Regions from separate parts of the Homo sapiens genome. Here region 1 is linked to region 2. The links come from fine-mapping of genetic effects on gene expression. A gene starts in region 2. The other region holds a variant in brackets. All regions are shown on one strand. Distances are from middle to middle. Region 1 overlaps NHSL2 (NHS like 2). Region 2 holds the start of NHSL2 (NHS like 2).

The links. PIP is the estimated chance that this variant, and not a neighbour inherited with it, causes the effect. A credible set is the group of variants that fine-mapping cannot tell apart.
Region 1: its variant is the best candidate, but not a certain one, in a credible set for the expression of NHSL2 in whole blood (TOPMed, PIP 0.86).

The regions. Positions count from the first base shown.
Region 1 is chrX:72,104,827-72,109,213 of GRCh38, reverse strand. All of the region lies in intron 1 of NHSL2 (NHS like 2), which reads right to left. Among named protein-coding and RNA genes, the nearest start is that of RTL5, 25 kb to the left of the region's middle. The variant C/T (reference allele first, on the strand shown) is at 2,388.
Region 2 is chrX:71,908,994-71,913,380 of GRCh38, reverse strand. It overlaps NHSL2 (NHS like 2), which reads right to left and starts at 2,536. Exons shown (of 8, transcript NM_001013627.3): 1 at 2,014-2,536. The coding sequence starts at 2,293.

The sequences.
Region 1 (4,387 bases), 200 kb before region 2:
ATTCAACAAATACTTAGCCCTTTCTGTGTACTGGGCCCATAAGCTTGGGGAATACAACAGTGAACAGGACAGACACAGTCCATGCCCTCACGGAGTTCACACTAAAGCAGAGGAGATCTGAATGATAAGAAGGAACCAGCCGCACAAAGAGAAAAAGAGCACACTTGGCAGGGGAAACAGCAAATGCAAAGGCCCTGGGGTGGAAAAGGATGACTGAAAGGAGCCAGTGTATGTGCGATGTATGAGGGGAGCATGGCAAGAAAAGATGTCACAGAGGTGGTCAGGGGCCATATTACTTCAGAGTCTTATGGGCTGCGGTCAGGAATTGGGGTTTGATGCTCGACATACCTGAAAGCTGTTGGAGGGTCTATGGTCTGGGGCGGGGAAGGGAACTGTGTGGTGTGACCTGACTGCTCTCCTTCACTGCCTACAGTGCCGGCAACCTGGGCTCAGCGTTTCCTTCTTCCCTGCCGGACCCGCATGTCCTCAAATTTCTGGAACTAGAAAGCCCATCCAAGGCCTCGGGATTTCACGTCTAGATGCTCACTGGAGAAATGTGTGGGATGCACACACTACTAGCCTGCTGCAGTTTGCTCAGGCTGCTCTGTGTGCAGAAGGTCTCTGTGCTCAGTGACCACTCTTCTGGTCCCGCCCCCAGGCAGCAGAGCGAAGGCTCTGGAGCAGACGATGTGGGTTCAAATCCTGGCTCTGTCGCTTATCAGCTGTGTGACCCTGGGAGATTCACGTTGCCTCTATGGGCCTCTGTTTCCTCATCTGTAAAATGACGTAAGAATAGTAACTACTTCCTAGGGAAGTTGTGATGACGCAGTGAGTGAATGTGAAGGCAACACTTCAGCCTGGCACCTAGGAAGTGCTGCACGAAGCCTGTGGACAGGCAGAAGTTTGGTGTCTTTGACTTTGAGGCTGGGGTGAGTTAATGTAAGGGCAAGTACTGCAAATGCTCCAGAACCCTTAACAAAGGGCAGCTACTGCCATGGCTAGGATAACACTGCACACCACTGTGCCACTGGGTCCCGGTTTTTACTTTCCACCTTGAGGAATCACCAAGACCTGTCAATCTGACCTCCTAACTCCCTCTCAAATCTGTTCCTTCTCCCACTCACTGGCACCTCTCCAAATCAAAGCCCTGTTACTTCTCACCTAAACAATTACAAGAACCTCCTACCTGCTGCTCTTCCTCCCTCAGATCTTGCTCTCTTACGATCCAGCCTCCACGGGGCCAAGAGAGTCATCTTCTAGACACACACAAGTCATATCAGCTCTTCCCTCTGCCTCAAAACCATCAGGATAAAATGCCAGTTCCTCAGGCTGGCTGACAGGGTCTTCCCATTCTGGCCCCTGCCTCTTCTCCGCTTCACATGCGCCACTTCCTTTAGGAGCACCATTCATCAGCTGAATTGTTCCTTTGCTCTAGAATGCCGTTCTCCCACCCCTGCCCTCTTTTCCACCTAGTAGAAGTCTACCCTTGCTCCTAGAGTCTCTATGACATTGTCCCAACTTCGCTTTTCCTCATGGGTTGTTCCTTCCTCCAACACCCCCCCGGGACTCTGTCTTCTGTCTGTTGGTGCACATGAGTCGTCCTCCCCACGAGATGGTGAGCCCTGAGGGCAGAGGAGACAGCAGAGCAGAGCAATGACATCATCTATCATTGTGTAACCTCAGCACCCAGCTTAGCCAAATCAAGGGCTCATGAGCACAAACACTGGCAGGGCCCAGGCAGGTAACACCAAAGAGAGAAGCAGGCTAAATGGGCCCTGCCGTGAACCGTGGAACTCCCTGCCTACCCACAAGGGGGCCAAACCCCTTAGTATTAGCTGATTCATCCATTGGGACCAGATCTTAAGATTTTTTAAGAAAGTGCATTGGGAACTAACTTACATTATTTATTTATTGTTTATTTATTTATTTATTTATTTAATTTTTTTGTATTTTTAGTAGAGACGGGGTTTCACCGTGTTAGCCAGGATGGTCTCCATCTCCTGACCTCGTGATCCACCCACCTCGGCCTCCCAAAGTGCTAGGATTACAGGCATGAGCCACCGCGCCCGGCCTTTTAAAAAATTTTATTTATTTATTTTTTATTATACTCTGAGTTCTAGGGTACATGTGTGCAATGTGCAGGTTTGTTACATAGGTACACATGTGCCATGTTGGTTTGCTGCACCCATCAACTCGTCATTTACATTAGGTATTTCTCCTAATGCTATCCCTCCCCCAGCCCCCACCCCCCGACAAGCCCCGGTGTGTGATGTTCCCCCTTCCTGTGTCCATGTGTTCTCGTTGTTCAACTCCCACCTATGTGTGAGAACATGCAGTGTTTGGTTTTCTGTCCTTGTGATAGTTTGCTGAGAATGATGATTTCCAGC[C/T]TCATCCATGTCCCTGCAAAGGACATGAACTCATTTGTTTTTATGGCTGCACAGTATTCCATAGTGTGTATGTGCCACATTTTCTTAATCCAGTCTATCATTGATGGATATTTGGGTTGGTTTCAAGTCTGCTATTGTGAATAGTGCCACAATAAACATATCTGTGTGTGTGTCTTTATAGTAGCATGATTTATAATCCTCTGGGTATATACCCAGTAATGGGATGGCTGGGTCAAATGGTATTTCTAGTTCTAGATCCCTGAGGAATCGCCACACTGTCTTCCACAATGGTTGAACTAATTTACACTCCCACCAACAGTGTAAATGCATTCCTATTTCTCCACATCCTCCCCAGCATCTGTTGTTTCCTGACTTTTTAATGATCGCCATTCTAACTGGCATGAGATGGTATTTGTTTATTTATTTTTAAGCTGCACTTCTGAGTGTGGAAAATTCGTTTTTTAAACCATGCAGAACAAAAAAACCTGAACTTCAGGCCACACTTGGTCTTTCAGCCTATCATCTTGCAAACTCAGAACCTTTGTGTGTGTATGTGTGTGTGTGTGTGTGTGTGTAATGAGGGAATGAATGAATGAATTCAAGTTTCTTTTTTTTTTTTAGACAGAGTCTTGCTGTCGCCCAGGCTGGAGTGCAGTGGCGCGATCTCGGCTCACTGCAGGCTCTGCCCCCCCGGGGTTCACGCCATTCTCCTGCCTCAGCCTCCTGAGTAGCTGGGACTACAGGCACCCGCCACCTCGCCCGGCTAATGTTTTGTATTTTTAGTAGAGACGGGGTTTCACTGTGCTAGCCAGGATGGTCTCGATCTCCTGACCTCATGATCTGCCCGCCTCAGCCTCCCAAAGTGCTGGGATTACAGGCGTGAGCCACCGCGCCCGGCCTCATGGATTCAAGTTTCCTAGAGCTACTGTAAATTTCAAAGGTTTGGGGGAAATTACACGTAGTCAGTTCAGTTGCTATTTGGTTTGATTTTTTGGCGTAAGGACATGAACGTCAAAATCGAAAGTCAAGTTTTTATATTTCTCTCTTTAAAAATGAAGCCCAACCTTCTTTCACCTGGTGGCTATAACAGTATTGCATTTCCTGGGTAGCTCACAGGCCTTGTGAGCAGACCTGTAACCTCAACTGTGGTGACATCCCTCTTTGAGATGCAGGTCACCCCAGAAGGAAGGGAGGGATGTGAAAGCCACAGAGACTGTTTCCATGGTGGCTGATTTGCTTAGTTTGGTAACCTCTTATAAACAAACTGTGCAGAAGATGACAACGGCACGGTTCCCTCCAACTTCCGCCTACCTCATCCCACTTATCTTAGCCCCAAGTGAGAGAGGTTGGGGGAAAGACTGAGGACTCTGAATTACAGGCATCAAGGACTCAAATTCCTTTTAGGTCCTGACTCCCTGTCCCTGGGACTCCTATACCTGGCTTTGGGCTGCAGGGAGGGACTTGCCCAGAGGCCTGCAGGGTGGGAGGGAGCCAGTTGCATTTCCTGAGTGACTAGAACACCAGACCTTGAGCTGCTTGATCCCCCATTCAGGACCAAGGCACTCAGTCCCCCAGCTACCAGAGGTGTTGGTCCATGGCTCACGGTTGAGTCTCTTCTCCAAGGTAACAACCCCTTTCCTGGGGGGCAGCCTGCATCCAAGATCTCGTTAATAGATGGGGTGGGGTGGGAGGTGGGGGAAGAAAGGCCCAGCTGCCTGGCCTCAACTGGGGCCATCTGAAGAGCATCTCAGCTCCAGAGCTTCCCATGTTATCAACTGAGGTCTCCAGTGTGCCCACACTGCAGGTGAACTCCTGTCTCTGACCGATCCTGCTCCCTCACAGGTGCTGTTCTAGAAGGCAGTTCCCAACAAACCTTTTGCAGGCAAATCAATATCTCCAAATCTGTTTCTTGGAGATGCCAGCCTATGACAATTCCCTGCCTTGGCCTCTTTTCTCTCCCTGCCTTTTCTTCCTTGTTGAGCACAATCACTCCAAACGCC
Region 2 (4,387 bases):
ATTACGCTCCCCAACTCTCTTTGCATTTGGCACTTATGTTCAGACCATTGCTGAGAAGGCCTAATTTCAGTGCTACCCAATTACAGCTCCTGAAGAGAAAAGTGTGCACTGAGAACTTCAAGGGGAGTCTAGGGTAGGGCATTAGACCAGAAAATGGAAAATCAGACCTTTTCACCAACTTACAGAAGGTAGCTGTGTTCCATTTATGCAGCAGTCCCTTGGGTGCCTCTGAGCCGTGGGACATGTACATTCTCAAAAGCAAGAGGCCACACCAGGGATGAGAGATGGCCACTCTTCCTGCTCTTGAAAACTGCCAAGAAGCCAAACCAGTGGTAATTTAACTTAACAATTGTTCCTCTCCATTGCAAGCTATCCATTGCATAAAGCCATCTCCTTCTAACCTGGCAGATCACCGGAGAGGGTTAGGTCCCAAAGGTGACTTGGTGAAGCCCTGCCTTCCCTCCCACAGAAAGGGCTTGCTAATTCAGTGGACAGGAAGGTAGAGTTGAAAAAACTGTCCTTAACTTACCCTACTGAACTCAGTAGGTGGCTCTCTGCAAACTGTGTAGGGATTTTGAAAACTACTCCTCAAGCTGACTTATCAAATTTCTCCTAGACTAATCCTGTAATCAGTGGGACCCCAGCAAAAAACTGAGCCCCTGCCATGCAGAGGCTCCTGGTCCAACGTCTACATTCCATCTGGCAGTCATCTGTGGCTTCCACCTTTCTTTTCCAATAGGACTCAGTTCATTTATCTCCACCAGAGACCTCTGCCATCTACCTCAGAGGTCAGAGACCTTTATGAAGAGAGGTGCCAGGGCCTGACTCCAGTCCTTCTGGAAGGGGTGGGGATGGGGTGGGGTCTGCAATGAAGAGGGGCTGGCCCAGGCAATTCTTTCCCAAGTTAGCTGGAAGCTTGCACTCAGAAATCAGCCAGCAGTCATCTTCTGCCCCCATTGGAAACTTTCTGGCCACACTGCTCCTTCTCTCCCCAGCTTTCTGGAGGAACCGATTGGCCCTGGTACCTGGCATGCCCCAGCTGTAGTCAGCATTTCCAGCCTACTCAGTCCCCTTGCTTTCAGCAGAAGTCCCACACTCTCAGGGGCACTGCATTTCCACAGACAGAGGATTCCCCGTGTAAAGTGCTGGGATCCAAAACAGTAAAGGACAAGGGCTCGCGTAGCCCCCCTACCCTCTCACACGTCCCGCGTGCTCAGTGAGGGCACCACTGGAACCTGGTTTCTCAGGCATGGCTGATTCCTAAAGTGAATGCGCTTCAGGAAACTGATGATAGTTTCTTTAAATGATTCTCTCCAGCAAATAACAGCCAGACCCTAGCGGTAGTGGGTAGGGGGTCAGCAAAGCCCCGGACATTCTCCCCTCCCCCCTCCCGGCCACTCCCCAGCACAGCGGCCCAAAACGTGCGGAGAGAAGCAAGCGGGAGGACGCTCAGACACTCCTGTGAGTGGGAGCCGCGTCCACGCTCCAGCGGGAAGTTGCACAGGTTTAAAGCCTGTAGGCACCACCGCCGGCTCCTGCCGCCGCGTAGGTTGCGGTCGGCTGCGGCGCGCTTTCTGAAGTGGCCGAGCTCCTAGACAGGAGCAAAGAAGCCAGCGGCTCGGCCATTTAGCTCCCGACGCGGCGATGAGGACGGCGCCGAGGGCCTGGGGCTAGGTGGGCGGGTAGGGGGAGTATCGCCCAAGCCGTCCTGGACCCAGCGCGTCCCCAGCCAAAACCCCAGGAGGCGGCCACCAACCCCAGGGTCGGGAGTCCCAAGGGCACGGGGCCACTCCGGACGGCGCGACCGGGTCCAAGAGCAGGAAGTTCCAGCGGTAGGGCGACCGTGGGGCGGAGGCGGGGGTCGGGGAAATGGGATCCCCTCACTCCCCGAATGGAGGGGAGGGGAGGGGCGGAGAGAGGCGGGGAGAGGGTGGGCACAGCGCTAAGCGCCGACCGGCGCCCCTAGAGGCGGGGTAGACGCGGGGCCGCGAGCCACCGGGGCGCCGTTTTTACCTAGCTCTTCCTCGTCCTCCTCCGGGCCAAGCAGGCGGCAGGGAAGGCGGCGGCGGAGGCGCACGGTGCGCCGGTACAGGCTGTCTGTGCGGCGCCCCAGGGCCAGCAGGTGCCCCTCGAGGTCCTCGAGCAGAGCCAACGAGTGGCCACAGAGGTCGGCGAGCTGCCGGAGCAGGCTGAGCGCTGCCAGGTGGCTCACGTCGCGGAGCTCCGCCAGCTGCTGCGGCGGGTTGCGCGGGCACAGGCGCTGGGGTACCACCGTGCGCCTGTAGAACGGCATCCCGGCCGCGGGCGCGGGCGCAGGGGACCAGTCTGGCGGCGCGGCGGGCTCACCCCGAGCAGCGCCCCTGGCCCGAGCGCCCCTGAGCGGCGGCCCCAGCTCCGGGTGTAGCAGGCCCCTGGGCGCGGGCCGGAGAGCGTGCGGGCGCCAAAGACGACGGGCGGGTAGGCGGGCTGACGGGTTCCTCGCCTAGAGCGCCGGCTCCCCCGGGGCTGCACACTCGCCGGAGCCACCAGTCCCTCTGACTCTGCTTCGCCGGGCTCCTCCTCCTCCTCCCCCCTCCTCCTCCTCTCTTTTCTCCTCCTCCTCCTCCTAGCTCTGCTACTTCGGGATCCCCCCACCCACCTTTTTTTTTTTTCTTCTTTTGCGGTCAGAGATTCGCAGATTAACGCTTGATCCGGGAGAGGGAGAAAGGGAAGTAGGAGTAAAAAGAGCGAGCTGGAGCGTGAAAGAAGGAATGTCTGCGTGAGGGGGGACGTAAGGTACGGTGTAGAATGTGTGCCCCGGTCCTCCTGAGGAGCTCCACTCCCAGTTCTGATGGTTAAAGTTATTTTTTGCTTTTTTTTTTAACTTAAACTTTTTCTTCATAATTACAAAAAAAAAAAAAAAAATTCAAGCACACCCGCGCCCACACCAGCGGGTAATCAGCGAAGACCGACCGAATAGTTTGACTTTATTGATCTAGATTTCCTTTCCCAAACGTACTCGGTGCCACGCACGGGCTAGACTAGGCTGTGAATACAACCTTCTAGCACCCAGGAGCTTGGAAATAAGGACCAAAAAACCAAATATCTTATTCGACTGTTCAAGAAGACAATGTCTCTAGGGAGTCCCACAGTGGCTGGACATTGTAAAGCCATTGGAGTGGATGAATAGAAACAAACCCATTTTCTGGAACAATAGACTTAATTCAGATAGAGGGACGCCACTCCATAGTTTATGCAAAAAGAGAGCCCAGGGACGCCTCCTTCTGGTAGGGTCCGCCAGCTGGGATAGGCTCTATCCCTGGCCAGGCTGGGCTGCTGGGATGCTCTCCGAAGAGGGTTACAGGAGCCGAGATGTGCTTTCAGTGCGGGCAACCCTGTGGTCACGGCCTGATTTCTCTCCATTCCAGAAGGCAGAAAAGAGGGGGCACATTATTGTCCTCAGAAAACCAGAGTACGTGAGCATATGTCCTCATGCACTTAGGACCTTTCCACTCAGAACGCTTATTTTCAACACACTGAGCTCCCATCTGACTCTCCTCTAACCCACTTCTTTGACTTTGGTGTACTTCGGTTTCTTCCTTCTCTTCATTCTCTTCTCATTTTTCCTCTTACAAATGTTCACATCCTTATAATCCTTTATAATCCATTAGCAAAACACTTTTTTTTTTAAGAGACAAGATCTACCACTGTCACCCTGGCTGGAGTGCAGTGGTGTGGTCACAGCTCACTGCAGCCTTGAATTCACTCTGGGCTCAGGGGATCCTCCGGTCTCAGCCTCCTGAGTAGCTAGGGCTATAGGCACGTGCCACCACTCCTGCTAATTTAGTTTTTATTTTTTGAAGAGACGGAATCTCCCTATGTTGCCCAGGCTGGCCTTAAACTCCTTGGCCCCAAGCAATCCTCCTGCCTCAGCCTCCCAAAGCACTGGGATTACAGGCATGAGCCACCACACTGGCCAGTAAAATACTTTGAACAGAATACCTGCATCTACATTAATGATTCTAAGCGTGGCCTGTTTTCATGCATTCCTTCAGATAATTAATTGTCCCTGAAGCAGTTCAAGAAGGTTCTACAACTAGTATATTTCAAAATTGCTAATAGATTCTAAATGTTCACACCACAGAAAAATGGTAAATATGTGAGGTAATGGATATGTTAACTAGTTTGATTTAATCATTCCACAATGTATTAATATATATACATCAAACCACATCGTGCCCCATAAATACATATAATTGTTTGTCAATTAAAAATAAAGTAAAAGCGTAATCCGATTTCCCTTTTCAGCATATAGTTGTTTCTTGTTTAGTAAATTAGAACATGGATATTAGAAAAGTTGGGTTCTGATTAAAATAAGAATCAACAAATGGGCAAAAGACTTGTACCC